Regions from separate parts of the Homo sapiens genome. Here regions 2 and 3 are each linked to region 1. Evidence: fine-mapped expression QTL. A gene starts in region 1. Each other region holds a variant in brackets. All regions are shown on one strand. Distances are between the middles of the regions.

What was found. PIP is the estimated chance that this variant, and not a neighbour inherited with it, causes the effect. A credible set is the group of variants that fine-mapping cannot tell apart.
Region 2: its variant is the best candidate, but not a certain one, in a credible set for the expression of SEC14L1 in whole blood (TOPMed, PIP 0.74).
Region 3: its variant is the best candidate, but not a certain one, in a credible set for the expression of SEC14L1 in whole blood (TOPMed, PIP 0.90).

Annotation. Positions count from the first base shown.
Region 1 is chr17:77,138,388-77,142,485 of GRCh38, reverse strand. SEC14L1 (SEC14 like lipid binding 1) reads right to left here and starts at 1,517. Exons shown (of 17, transcript NM_001143998.2): 1 at 1,379-1,517. LOC105371901 (a long non-coding RNA gene) reads left to right here and starts at 1,047. Exons shown (of 5, transcript XR_934988.3): 1 at 1,047-1,130. RefSeq lists silencers at 745-1,039, 1,204-1,653, 1,664-1,873, 2,024-2,233.
Region 2 is chr17:77,163,106-77,167,203 of GRCh38, reverse strand. All of the region lies in intron 3 of SEC14L1 (SEC14 like lipid binding 1), which reads right to left. Among named protein-coding and RNA genes, the nearest start is that of SEC14L1, 24 kb to the right of the region's middle. RefSeq lists an enhancer at 3,348-3,849. The variant T/A (reference allele first, on the strand shown) is at 2,108.
Region 3 is chr17:77,211,251-77,215,348 of GRCh38, reverse strand. SEC14L1 (SEC14 like lipid binding 1) reads right to left here. Exons shown (of 17, transcript NM_001143998.2): 15 at 3,148-3,399; 16 at 1,857-2,035; 17 at 1-1,431. The coding sequence ends at 1,326. Among named protein-coding and RNA genes, the nearest start is that of LACAT1, 41 kb to the left of the region's middle. RefSeq lists enhancers at 2,785-2,834, 3,175-3,284. The variant C/TC (reference allele first, on the strand shown) is at 1,728.

The DNA.
Region 1 (4,098 bases):
TCTAAGCTCAAGTGATCCTCCTGCCTCAGCCTCCCAAGTAGCTGGGACCACAGGCACGCACCACCATATATATTTTTTGTAGAAGGTTTCCCCATGTTGCCCAGGCTGGTCTCAAACTCCTGGGCTCAAGGGATCTGCCCACTTCAGCCTCCCAAAGTGCTAGGATTATAGTCATGAGTCACGGCGCCTGGTATAGAATTCCCATCTATAGTACTAAGGTTTAAACAGGTTTGGAACTTTCTCTGGTATGTCTGGCATACCTCTCAGAGGAGAGGTCATGGTGGAAAACATCGCCATCTGACAGTGTGAAAACGGCTAAGGAATGACTCTGGGTGACCACGAGTAAGCCATTTGACTTCCCTAGGACTCAGTTTCATCTCTGTAAAATGAGGTTTTCGGGGAGATGATCTTGAAAGACTTCCACCTCTAAAACCATGAGAATGAGAGCCAAACTCCCAAGTTCTCCAAACTCAACTTGAAGCTTTTCTAATATTCATCTTGATTATGCGACTGACACATCCTGATGTGCTGGGACCACGTTCTTTTTCTTTTGCAAACCTTACAGTGTTGGTGCACAGTGGGAATCCAATCATCTTTTAAAAATTTAATTGGGAATATTAATTTTAGGGTACTCTCCCAGATATGAGGACGATAACCGGGTACAAACAAGAGTTGGGGGAAGAAGCAAAAAAGCGTAATGCTCGTTTAAGAAACGGTAACATCCATTCAGGATTCCACCGCCTGGCAGAACTGGCTACACTCACTTAAGAACCTGCTAATTCACGAGCTTGTGAACCACAGCCAGGTCTCAGCTGCCGATGCTCTGGTCCAGATAAACGCCCTACGCGGGCATCCGGAGTGACAACGACCAAGTGGCATCCAGGAGCCGGACGGCCTCCATTGCATGACAATCGCTGTTTAAACAGGAGCCAAAGGCCAGACCCACTGAACGCATCCCGAGCAGGCTCGAGGGGCGGCCGGCGCCCGGGGCTGCTCAGCAGGGGTCCCGCGCGGCTGAGCCCCACGGGGCCAAAGCCCCGACCGACGGGAGAGAGGGGCGGGCACTGGCTCCGGACCCGAAACTCCGCTCTCAGCAAAAAGCGGCTCCCGGGAACTGGAAGCCTGGCGAGGTGGGGGTGGGGGCGGGGGAGGGGGGCGAGGGGCGGCGAGGGGCGAGCAGGGGGGCGGAGGGCGAGCAGGGGGGCGGGGGCACGGCCCGTTTCGGGTGCCGGGCCGATGGCAGCCGGGGCTGGGGAGGGACAGGCTCAGCAAGCGGGCGGCCGGGAGTTCCGGGGGGCCCGCCCGAGAGGCGCCGGACTCCACGGAGACCGGGACCGGGGCGAGGGCGCACTCGGACCCGCCGCGACGACGCGCCTACCTCTTGTCAGAAAGGCCGGGCCTGGGACACGGGGTGGCGAGGGGCGCTCATACCGGCGGCTCCGCGGGGCAGTCTCGGTTCCACTGCTCCGCGACCGTAGCTCGACCGCCGGTTCCGGGGAGGGGGCCGGGGAGGCGGGAGGGGGAAGGGGCGCGGCGACGGCACTTGTGGTTGTTACGGGTGACGGGGTGGGCGGGGCCGGGCGCCGGGAGGGGCGCGCGTGCGCGGCCGCGGCCGAGGGAGCGGGGGCGGGAGCGGGCGATGGTTGCTAAGAAAGGGGAGGGGGGAGGACACCCGGGGCCCGAACTGCGCAGGCGCGAGCTCCGACCCGCGAGCGTGGGAGGAGCTCGGAGAAGGCGCCGGCCCCGTCGCACTGCTGGATGTGCCCGAGGTCCTCGTGGCCCCTCCCAGTTTTGCGTCACTTGTTGGGGGCGGGGCCGGGCTGGGCTTCGCGAGTAGCGGGCGGAGGCGGAGTGAAGCCCCAAGGGGCTGCCGGCGTGCAGGGGAGGGGTTCGGCTGAGCGGGAAAAGGGAAGTTTGCGGGAGGTCAAAACCACCGGGGCCCTCCCGTATGGCTGCTGCTCTGAGGCCTGCCTCTGGTCGCCCTGGCGGCTGCCCCCGTGCTTCCTCATTTCTTGTTGACTGTTCAGGAGCACCAGGCTGCTCGCGCCAGTGCCCCGACCGCATTCTCGCCGAGTAATGGGGAGGAGGCGGACGCCGGTGCTGCGCGGCCCAGGGCTCGGGAGGGCCCGGGTGAGCCCGGGTGGAGCCCAGCGGCATCCTTGTCAACACATCCAGACGGCTCTAGTGTCGGGCCGCGGGCTTGAAACTGAGACGCGCGCCCAGGGCCTGCCCCTCGGAAACGAGGGTGCCAAGGTGGGGCTGCTAAGTAGCTCCCGAATTTCAGCAGGAGAGCACCGTCCAGCCCCAATTTTCAATCCGGTACCACTGAGACATTTTGGGGTCCTTAAGAGGAGCTCATGACTAGAAAGGGGCACCTCGCATGCCCACCCACACAGCAAAGCTGGTTTTATAACCAACATGCAATTTCACTGTCAAAGTCACTGTTGTTCCGTTCACATTAGTCACCCTGAGTGGCTGTACATTTCATGCTGCCATTGGACAGAACGTTTTTGGACCTGTTTAGGAATTTCCATCAAAGCCAGTTTACCAGACACACAAGCAAATCATTCATGGCCTCATCACCCCTTGTGTTCCACGTCAAACCATCATCTTCCAGCTGGGTCACCTACATTATTCACTACATTCAGTCTGACTGGCTTTTGCTTGTTTGTAGAAATCACATCCACCGGCCGGGCGCGGTGGCTCACGCCTGTAATCTCAGCACTTTGGGAGGCCGAGGTGGGCGGATCACGAGGTCAGGAGATCGAGACCATCCTGGCTAACACGGTGAAATCCCTGTCTCTACTAAAAATACAACAGATTAGCCGGGCGTGGTGGCGGGCGCCTGTAGTCCCAGCTACTTGGGAGTCTGAGGCAGGAGAATGGCGTGAACCCTGGAGGCAGAGCTTGCAGTGAGCCGAGATCGCGCCACTGCACCCCAGCCTGGTCGACAGAGCGAGACTCCGTCCCAAAAAAAAAAAAAAAAATCACATCCACCTTCAAAAGACGCTTTAACGCCGTTGCGGTGGCTCACGCCTGTAATCCCAACAGTCTGGGAGACCTAGGTGGGTGGATCACCTGAGGTCAGGAGTTTGAGACCATCCTGGTCAACACGGTGAGACCTCGTCTCCACTAAAAATACAAAAAGTAGCCGGGTGTGGTGCCAGATGCCTGTAATCCCAGCTACTTGGGAGGCTGAGGCAGGAGAATCACTTGAACCTGGGCAGAGGTTGCAGTGAGGCAAGATCACGCCACCTGCCCTGCACTCCAGCCTGGGCTGGACTCCAGCAAGACTCCGTGTCAAAAAAAAAAAAAAAAAAAAAAATTCACCTGACCTGCTGAACTTCTAGATGCAACCACCAGTTTACAGGAAATACAGAATAGAGGAACATGCTAAATGACACCATGAAAAACAATTGGCAAAGTACAGACTGTGGGAAACGGTACAAGACAAATATATTCTTTATCAAATTCCAAAGGAAAAAAAGAGGGGAATGGTCAATCTATAGATTAAAAGAGATTGGGAAATTTGTTGAGCCATACATTCATTTATGATTTGCAAGCTTTTATATGTATATTATACTTCAGTTAAACATTTTGAAGAAAAAACAGACTTGAGACATCAACCAATCACAAAAAACTTTATTTCCATTTTTTTTTTCTTGAAACAGTCTCACTCTGTTCCCCAGGCTTGAGGGCAGTGGCATAATCATAGCCGTCTGCAGCATCATCACCTGGCCTCAAGTGAACCTCCCACCTCAGCCTTCTGAGTAGCTGTGACTACAGGCATGTGCCACCACGCCTGGCTACTTTTTGCTATTTTTTTCCTTAGGTTTTTTTTGTTTTTTTGTTTGTTTGTTTGTTTTGAGATGGAGTCTTACTCTGTTGCCCAGGCTGGAGTGCAGTGGCACGATCTTGGCTCACTGCAACCTCCACCTCCTGGGTTCAAGTGATTCTCCTGCCCTCCTGCCTCAGCCTCCCGAGTAGCTGGGATTACAGGCGAGTGCCCAGCTAATTTTTTTATTTTTAGTAGAGACGGGCTTTCACCATGTTGGTCAGGCCGGTCTCAAACTCCTGACCTTGTGATCTGCCTGCCTC
Region 2 (4,098 bases), 25 kb before region 1:
TAATCACACCACTGCCCTCTGGCCTGGGAAACTGTCTCAAAAAAAAAAAAAAAAAAAGGAAAAAGAAAAGAAAACAGAAAGACAAACAAGCTTCTTTTAAGAACCTAGAAAAATTTCTAACATTACTTATTCAACATTCACTCCCTTCTCCAACAGGCACAGGGCTGAGGACACATGAACACAAGACAAGGGTCCTACCCATGAAGAGCTTTCATCTGGGGAGAAACACATCAGAGGGATGATCAAACCAACATGTATATATGGAGAGCCTAGTACGCATGCACCCTAATCAGCTTCCCAAAGATTACTGCATTTAATAGGTACAATCTTTATTTATTTTTGTTTTTTTCTTGTTTTTTGTTTTTGAGACTGAGTCTTGCTCTGTCACCCAGGCTGGAGTGCAATGGCACGATCTTCACTCACTGCAACCTCCACCTCCCAGGTTCAAGCCATTCTCCTGCCTCAGCCTCTGAAGTAGCTGGGACTACAGGTGTGCGCCACCCAGCCTGGCTAATTTTTTATTTTTAGTAGAGACAGGTGTTTACCATGTTGGCAAGGCTGGTCTTGAACTCCTGACCTCAAGTGATCCACCTGCCTCAGCCTCCCAAAGTGCTGGGATTACAGCCATAAGCCACTGCACCCGGCCCTTAATAGGTCTCATCTTTCCATGACATAAGTGTTTCTCCCATTTTAAAATGAGAAAACAGAGGCTGAGAGAATTTGAACCCAGGATATGAACCCAGGTCTGCCCCACTCCAGTTACCATTCTATTTCAGAGCACAGGCTTTAGAAGAGGCAGATCTGGCTTCAAATCCCAGTTCCACCATTAAAAGTGGTCCTTGGGGAGGCTATTTAATTTCATTAAGCTTCAATTTCTTCATCATCTTCAACTTGCAGCATTGTTGAAAGATTAAATAAGAAAACATAAAATGTTTGGCAGGCCCTGACACAGAATAAGTAGGGGGCCAAGCATGATGGCTCAGGCCTGTAATCCCAGCAATTTGAGAGGCCAAGGTGGGAGGATCACTTGAGCCCAGGAGTTCGACAGCAGCCTGGGCAACATAGCAAGATCTCATCTCAAAAACAAAGAATAAGTACAATACTCAATAAGTGTGGCTACTGTTCTGTGCAACACATGAACCTCTCAAGGAGGAAGACACTATTGGCAATGAAGTAAAGCCGCTGTCAGGCCCACAGTCCAGGAACCAGCTGAGCTATGCACAAGATGAGGAGGGGGACCTTCTGAATGCAAACAGTTTAAAACACTAAACATTTTCATTTGACATTTATCTTTTCTACTAAACTTTGGAAATGCACCAAATAAAATCCATGTGTTCACCAAACTAAAATAATTATCTCACTCATGACCCTAAAATTACAAGATGTAAATCTCATGAGACTTTGCTAGGAACCAGTTATTTTAAGTAAATAATTAGCCGACTAAAAAAAGGAACTAGGTATAAATAGGAGCATATTAGGTCTCCTGCCTTCTACAGAGAAAAGAAAAGGCCAAAGGAAGATAATGGCAAAAAAAATGATCATACTTCAGTTCAGGCACTGGGAATAAAACACTCCCCTTATCATATAAATTGTGAAAGGAAAATCAATCTTGGGGCCCCAAAATCACTCAGCTAAAAGGAAAAGTCAAACTGGGAGGCAAATCTGCCTCCCATTCCACTCAAAGTCACCCCTCTACTCACTGAGAAAAATGCTTCTGGCTGCCTCTCTCACCCACCTGCGACCTGGAGACCCCCTCCCTGCTTCGAGTTGTCCCGCCTTTCTGGACAGCACCAATGTACATCTTACATATACTGACTGATGTCTCCTGTCTCCCTACAATAAGTAAAACCAAGCTGTGCCCTGACCACCTTGAGCACATGTTGTCAGCACCTCCTGAGGCTGTGTCACAGGCACGTCCTCAATCCTGGCAAAATAAACTTTCTAAATTAACTAAGACCTGTCTCAGATATTCGGGGTTCACAGAAGAAGAGGAAATATATGGATTTAGTTATCTAATTCATTGATTAGCTACGTATACTATATTCGGTTGACAGAAGGAGAAAATATGGCCCTGAAGATAAATATCAGTCAAGTGGAAAGGGAACTT[T/A]CATAAAATAAATGAAGAAAAAGGGGTACTGAGTAACAGGATGTTCTCTGCAGAGGTTTCCGGTTACAGGTAGCCCTCAATCTGGCTTCTAATGGCATTAACGTTTTCCACAGAATAAGGAAACACGATCTACTTGGAAGAGAAAGAATTCATGTCAGGAAGCGAATTGCTCAGCTCCATTGTGGCCTGAATAAATGTAAACATGAGACTGTTGTTCCCACAGTTCTGGGAGGTCATCTACTATTCTCAGGACAAAAGCCTTCTCTGCCACACAATTATCTGCCAGACTCCACACTGTACCAGTATCTATGGCCTTCAGCTATTTTAAGCTCAGCTTTCCTAGCAACTTCCTCCCACTCCGCATCACCACCACCCTCACCCGCACCCACCCAATTATCATGTCTGCAACTCAGCTATCCAAGTGTCCTTTCCCTCCACTCCTCCAGCACTGTCATTCTAGGACTAAGACACAAACCGGGGAGGCATATGGCAGAGCAAATTAGAGCCTGGGCTCTTGTGTCAATGGACCTTGATTTGAATCCCAGCTGGACAACCTGGAAGCAAAGGCCTCCTGTCCAAGCAAACAGAAGGAAAGCCACCAACAAAGGGGGAGCGCTGGGAAAAAGGGTTACTGCCCAGCAGGGAGACGGATCACACCAGACAGAGCAAAAGGGAAAAGAGGTGGGGGGAAATTGGGAGGTTTTTCAAAAAATTGAGTTTAATTGACCAAATTGGGCAGTCCTCCCTCAAACCAGAATTGGTTCAGAGTGACTCCCAGAGAGGTCTTTTAAAGCAAAGACTGCAAACTGGCCCTGTTGGGAATTATGAAAGCCAAGTGCCTGAGCGCCGTGGGCTGATGGCCTCCAGGTGGGCACAGGCGCTCTGCCTGCTCGGGGGCACGGTACCGGGTCAGCCCACACCGCTGTCAGCAGGCGAGGCAGCCAGGTCAGGGCAATCACTTAGTAACCAATTTCAACCTGTTTCCTCAGTTGTAAAGTGGGATGAAAGAGCCTACCCACAAAGTAAGTGTGGGCAATAAACAAGATATTGCCACACAAGCACTCTCTAAATGTTGTTCTTAGACCTGTTATATGTTCTTTAAGTATTTTGCAAATTGCGGTTCAGTGGCAGGATCCCTGGCTGCCACCCAGGAGCCCAGGCTCCTCTCCAGGCCAAGCAGTATCATCTTCACCCTGGGCTTGTCAAGGTCAAATAAAAATATAAAGCTGAATCCCTAAAACAGTTTCATTTGGGAAAAGAGAATTGCAACTTGGGGCATAGAGAAAGACCAGGTGCTCTTCGGTATGTGCGAAGAAAAAACGGAAGGCTGGGGGTTTTATGAGAAAGAGAAAAGTCATCATCTATGTGGCCCCGCTGCGAGCCGCTCCTTTGATCTTAAAGAAACTTGACAGCATATGAAGACTGAATATCCATGTGAATGCATGACACGAAGAACATGGTGACAGCGTCTGCTCTCTGCAAGTGAACAGGCTCAGAAAAGTCTGAGGGACTCTCTGAATGAACTTAAAAATTCTGCTTGTTAACAACAAGTTTGACTCTGGTAAATGGCCTTCATAGCTAAAGTATAAAACCAAAGAGGAGGGAAGAGGAGGAGAAAAAGAAAGAAAAGAAAGAAAGGTGACATACTGTTTTGAAAACTCATTGGTACTAGTGAAGTTTTTGGGAGCTGGCAAGCTCTGACTGAACCAGTCTTAGAGTCACAGTAATTCATTTCAGCAGCAAGGAGTTAACACTGGTCTTAAAGTTACAGCAGGTCACTTTGGCAGCTGGCCTTCAAGATAATCCCGGGGCAGACGCTCTGTGTCCCAGCTTTTCTTCTCCCCTGGTCCCTCGACTCCAGTTTAGTTGGGTGTGACAGGGTAAGTCCAATTCGTATCATCGATTTTCACAGACTCTATACTCGCTGAGAGCAGAACTCAAGGGGCTCAGTTGCCACTGCAAGCTCCAGACCAAGCACAGCGGCAGGAGCT
Region 3 (4,098 bases), 73 kb before region 1:
TTGCATGTCCTTATCGTGGAGGCCATCCCCTATGCAACTTCTGGACAGATTCTCAAATAACCTGCTTTTCCCATAAAAAGCTGAAAAAATAAGGGCCTGTACCAGATAGAGCAGGCTTTAAAATCAGGAATTAAACAAAATGTAAAAGGCAAACAAATCCCATATTCTGATTTGCTTCTGTGAAGATTCCTTCATTACTCAAACTAAGTTTCCACTCACCCCGTCCCCCCAGCACCCCCACCGTCATGCACACATGCACACACACAGCACATGCACACACACACACGCATGAGTCCACAATTCCCATGTACAAAGAAGCAGGACTCCTACATGCCACACGCCACCCTGAAGTGGATGCGAGAGCTGCTGCTTAGCTACTAATAAAACCCCATGGACAGTGTCAAGTGGCAAATGCGACTTGCTGGTTCCAAGACGGCCTCCTAGTGGCTGGAACTGTCTGGGCTCTGAGGACAATGAGCCACCAGAGGGCACAGAGGAGATGGCCTACACTGGGCTGGGAGCTGACTGCAGGTGAGAGGGGCGACGCACGGAAGGAAACGGGAAGAACCCCCCCACCCAAGTTCACATACAGAAAAATCCTGCTCTAAAAAGTATCAAAAAGATTTGAAAAGGAGGAAAGAGAAAGTAATGTTTAACGATGGCAGCATTTTCCTGGAGTCACCAGGAGTCCCTGAGAGCCCCTCCTGAGCCCCCGGCCCCACTGCAGGACAGTGGGTGGTGTGGGTGTGTCTGGCCCTGGGACAAGGTACTCCGCAGGCAACCTCTGAATCCTCAGAGGATAAGGACCTCAAGGGCTGGCCCTAAGTCCACAGACCATCTTGACTGGCGGGAAGCATGGGGGCCGTGAGGCGGCGTGCGGGCCATGAGGCAGCTTGGGGGAAGCGAGCTGGCAGCTTCCGTCCCAGGTGAGGAGGGGCCATCTCTGGAGGATGTCACAGGAATTCATTCACTAATGGACAATGCGGAGTTCGTTGGAAAAATTTTTTGCATCAATATCTGAGACCACGTCAATCCTTTAATTGGTACAGAAACTACTTTTCTTTCAAGAGAGCCCTTGCGCTCTGGTTGGATTTTGTGCACAACGTATACAAAATCTATGGCTATTGAGTTAAGTTAGGATCAGAGTTAAAACTACCTGCCAAGGTAGTTTTGGGATCAAACGACTACGTTTACCATCTGAGAGCTATTTGCTATCTAGAGGTGAGAGGAGTCTGTACAATGTCGCCGCTGGGTGGGCGGGTGCAGCTGGCTGTCCGAGGAGGGGCGGCCGTCCCCTCTGCACACTAGGTGCAGGCAGCGCGGCACTACCTGGAGATCATGGAGCTGGAGTGGGACTGGCTGGAGGAGGTGGTGGCGGCACTCAGCTGGGAGAAGCCGCTGTGGCTGGACTCCAGGCTCGTCATGGAACCTCTGTAATGGCACAGGGAGGGGCGAGGCGTGAGGACCACCCTGCCAACCACCCGCCGGCCCACACTGCCTGCTGGACTTCGTGGCCCACCCTGTTCTCTGCTCACTTCTCATCCCCATCAGTGCTTGCAAACGGGGGATGGACATGAGTAACCCACCAGGGGGACCGGCTTCCCACAGCCTGCACGCAGACGGCAGTGTGAGCTAAAGCAAAGGCAGTCAGTCGGCTCTGTCTCCGACACTCTCCCTCTGCAGACAGGCAGGGAGTCACCGTGCCAACAAATGACCCCAAAGCCACT[C/TC]CCTCCTGGCCCTCCAAGCATTCCTGACACCCGCCGCCACTGCTGATCCTGCACACGGCGTGGGACTGCAGGCTCCCTCCAACCATGCCCAGCTGTCCGCAGCACCTGCTGTGGCGAGGGTGGCCGCACCTGAAATCCTCCGAGCCGATCACCTCGGTGTAGTACATCACTTTACACTTGTGCGAAGAGACCTGCAGGGACGCAAGCACGTCGTCCACCCGGGGAAGGCTGCTGGCGGCGCACGCAGGCATGCTGTGGAATTTCCACTGCAGGATGTAGAAGCCCGGCCACCTGGTCACATGGGAACCCTAGAACAAGTAGGGCAGTGGCAGCTGAGGGCGACTCGCTTCCGACCCCTGGCCTACCACAGGCCTGACAAGCGCCAAGGGGACTGTCTTTAGGATTTCATGTAGCTACGGAAACTATCTCAATGGGATTCAGAACCTGCTATTTTGCTTCAGCAGCAGGTTTGACAATGTCCTTCCCTCTACTGAGTGTGGTCACTCCCGGGTGCTGGGAAGCCCGGAGGGACAAGCTCCATGTCCGTGGCCCTCACGAGGCCTGCCCAGCCCACCCCACCTACGGAGGCAGGAGCCTGGCAGGCTGGTGGCACCCATGCTGGAGGGAGGGCTCAGCACAGCTTCCCTGGACCTGGCCTCACTTTCTCTGACATGCTGCCAATCATCCAGCATGTTCGGGGCTGAAGGCACGTCACCCTAAAGTGAGCCGTCAATCCGTGGAAAGCTCCTTCTCCATTCTCTCCGAAATTCATGACTGGTTAACACAGCTTAGCTGTTCATTGTTTTTAAAATGGACAAAGGATTCTTTTACTCTGCCTCTAAGACCACTGAAACACTGACAAGCCTTACCCCTGAAAACTGTAAAGGCAGCAAAACGATGCATCTATTATGAAGGCCAGAAGCAATGCCCCCGCCCCGAGGCTACTGTGAGCACAGGCACCCAAAATAACCAGCCACAATGTGAAAAGGGAACTGAAAGCATTTGAAACAAATTAGAAGGTTTGGTAATGAGAGCTAATAGTTCTCTAAGTACTTGTCCCTCTTACTTCTATTTAGGGTGATTTTCCTTTGAAAAAGACAAACACAACCCGGTGAAATGAGGCGGGGGGGAAAAATCCTATGAAGCCCAGCTGGGCCCGTGCGTGCGATGCCTTCCCTTCCTGTCACAGGCTGCTTTTGGGAAAAGTCGCAGATTCTGTCCAAAACCACTGCGAGGCCTGAACTCCTTCCTACGAGACCCACTTGGCTTCCTGCTCCTCCAGGCAAGCTGCTCCTCCACAAGCAGGGCCTCAAAAGCTACACAGGGCTGCTCAAGGAGCGAAGCAAAGAGTCTACTCAAGACAGAATCACCTGGCCGTGTGGAGTCACGGATGCGCGATTTGACCTGTGTGTGATTTTACCTGCACGCTTTCTCCTTCTTTGCAGATCAGAGGCGACTCCACCATGCTGTAGTCGCGGCCCAGCTGCCAGACTTTGTCTATGAGCTGCACATTGTTCCCACCCGGAGAGGTGATGCTGTGGGCTCCCAGGGAGTCCTTTTTGGGTGGTTGTGGCGACCTCTTGGAGTGATAGATGTTAAACACAATGTCCCCTTTGCACACGTCGAAATCCCAAGTGATGACTGACGAGGCATCCACAATCTGAATGAGAATCTGAAAAAGAGGCAGCGTTAGGCAGCCACGATCCACGAGCACCAGGCCGGCATGCTGCGAGCGCATCGTGCTCTCCAGGGGATCCAGGGTGCAGGTGCTGAAGCTGGGGAGGGAAACGCTGAATGCGTATGGACGGATCTCTTTCCCCAGAGTCACACACCACCATCCATTCAACCGCTGGATCCTGCTACATGTCATGCACCAAGCTCTGTGTTCTTTGTGACCTGCACCTAGAGGTCCAAGATCTCCCATACACCATCTTCACACACACTCTAAGAGGCCAGGTCTTAGAAACACCAAACACTGTGAGCTCGTACATGAGTGGTTCAGAGGACTGCCCTGGGCTGGACAGAACAGAAGGCCCTGGAGAAGGTGAAAGCTAAAGAAAGAGCAGGCAGGGGAGCCTGAGGACAGCGTTCCCAGCAAGGGGGAAGCAGGGGCATGGAACCGGGCCTGCCGTGTGAGGCTCACACGAGAGAACAGTGGCGAGGCTGGGTGAGCGGGATGAGCCCCTGGCATAGTAGAGATGGGGTTGAGGTGGTCACCCCCTGGGTGCTGAGAACCAATTGAAAACCAAACTTACACAGCACCGACAGAGCTACCCAGGAGGGAATAATCAAAGTTAGTTTCAAAGATTGGGCGGGGGCGGACGTGAGAATGAAAAGCAGCTGTGCAGAGTTCTGCAGTCACTGAAAACTC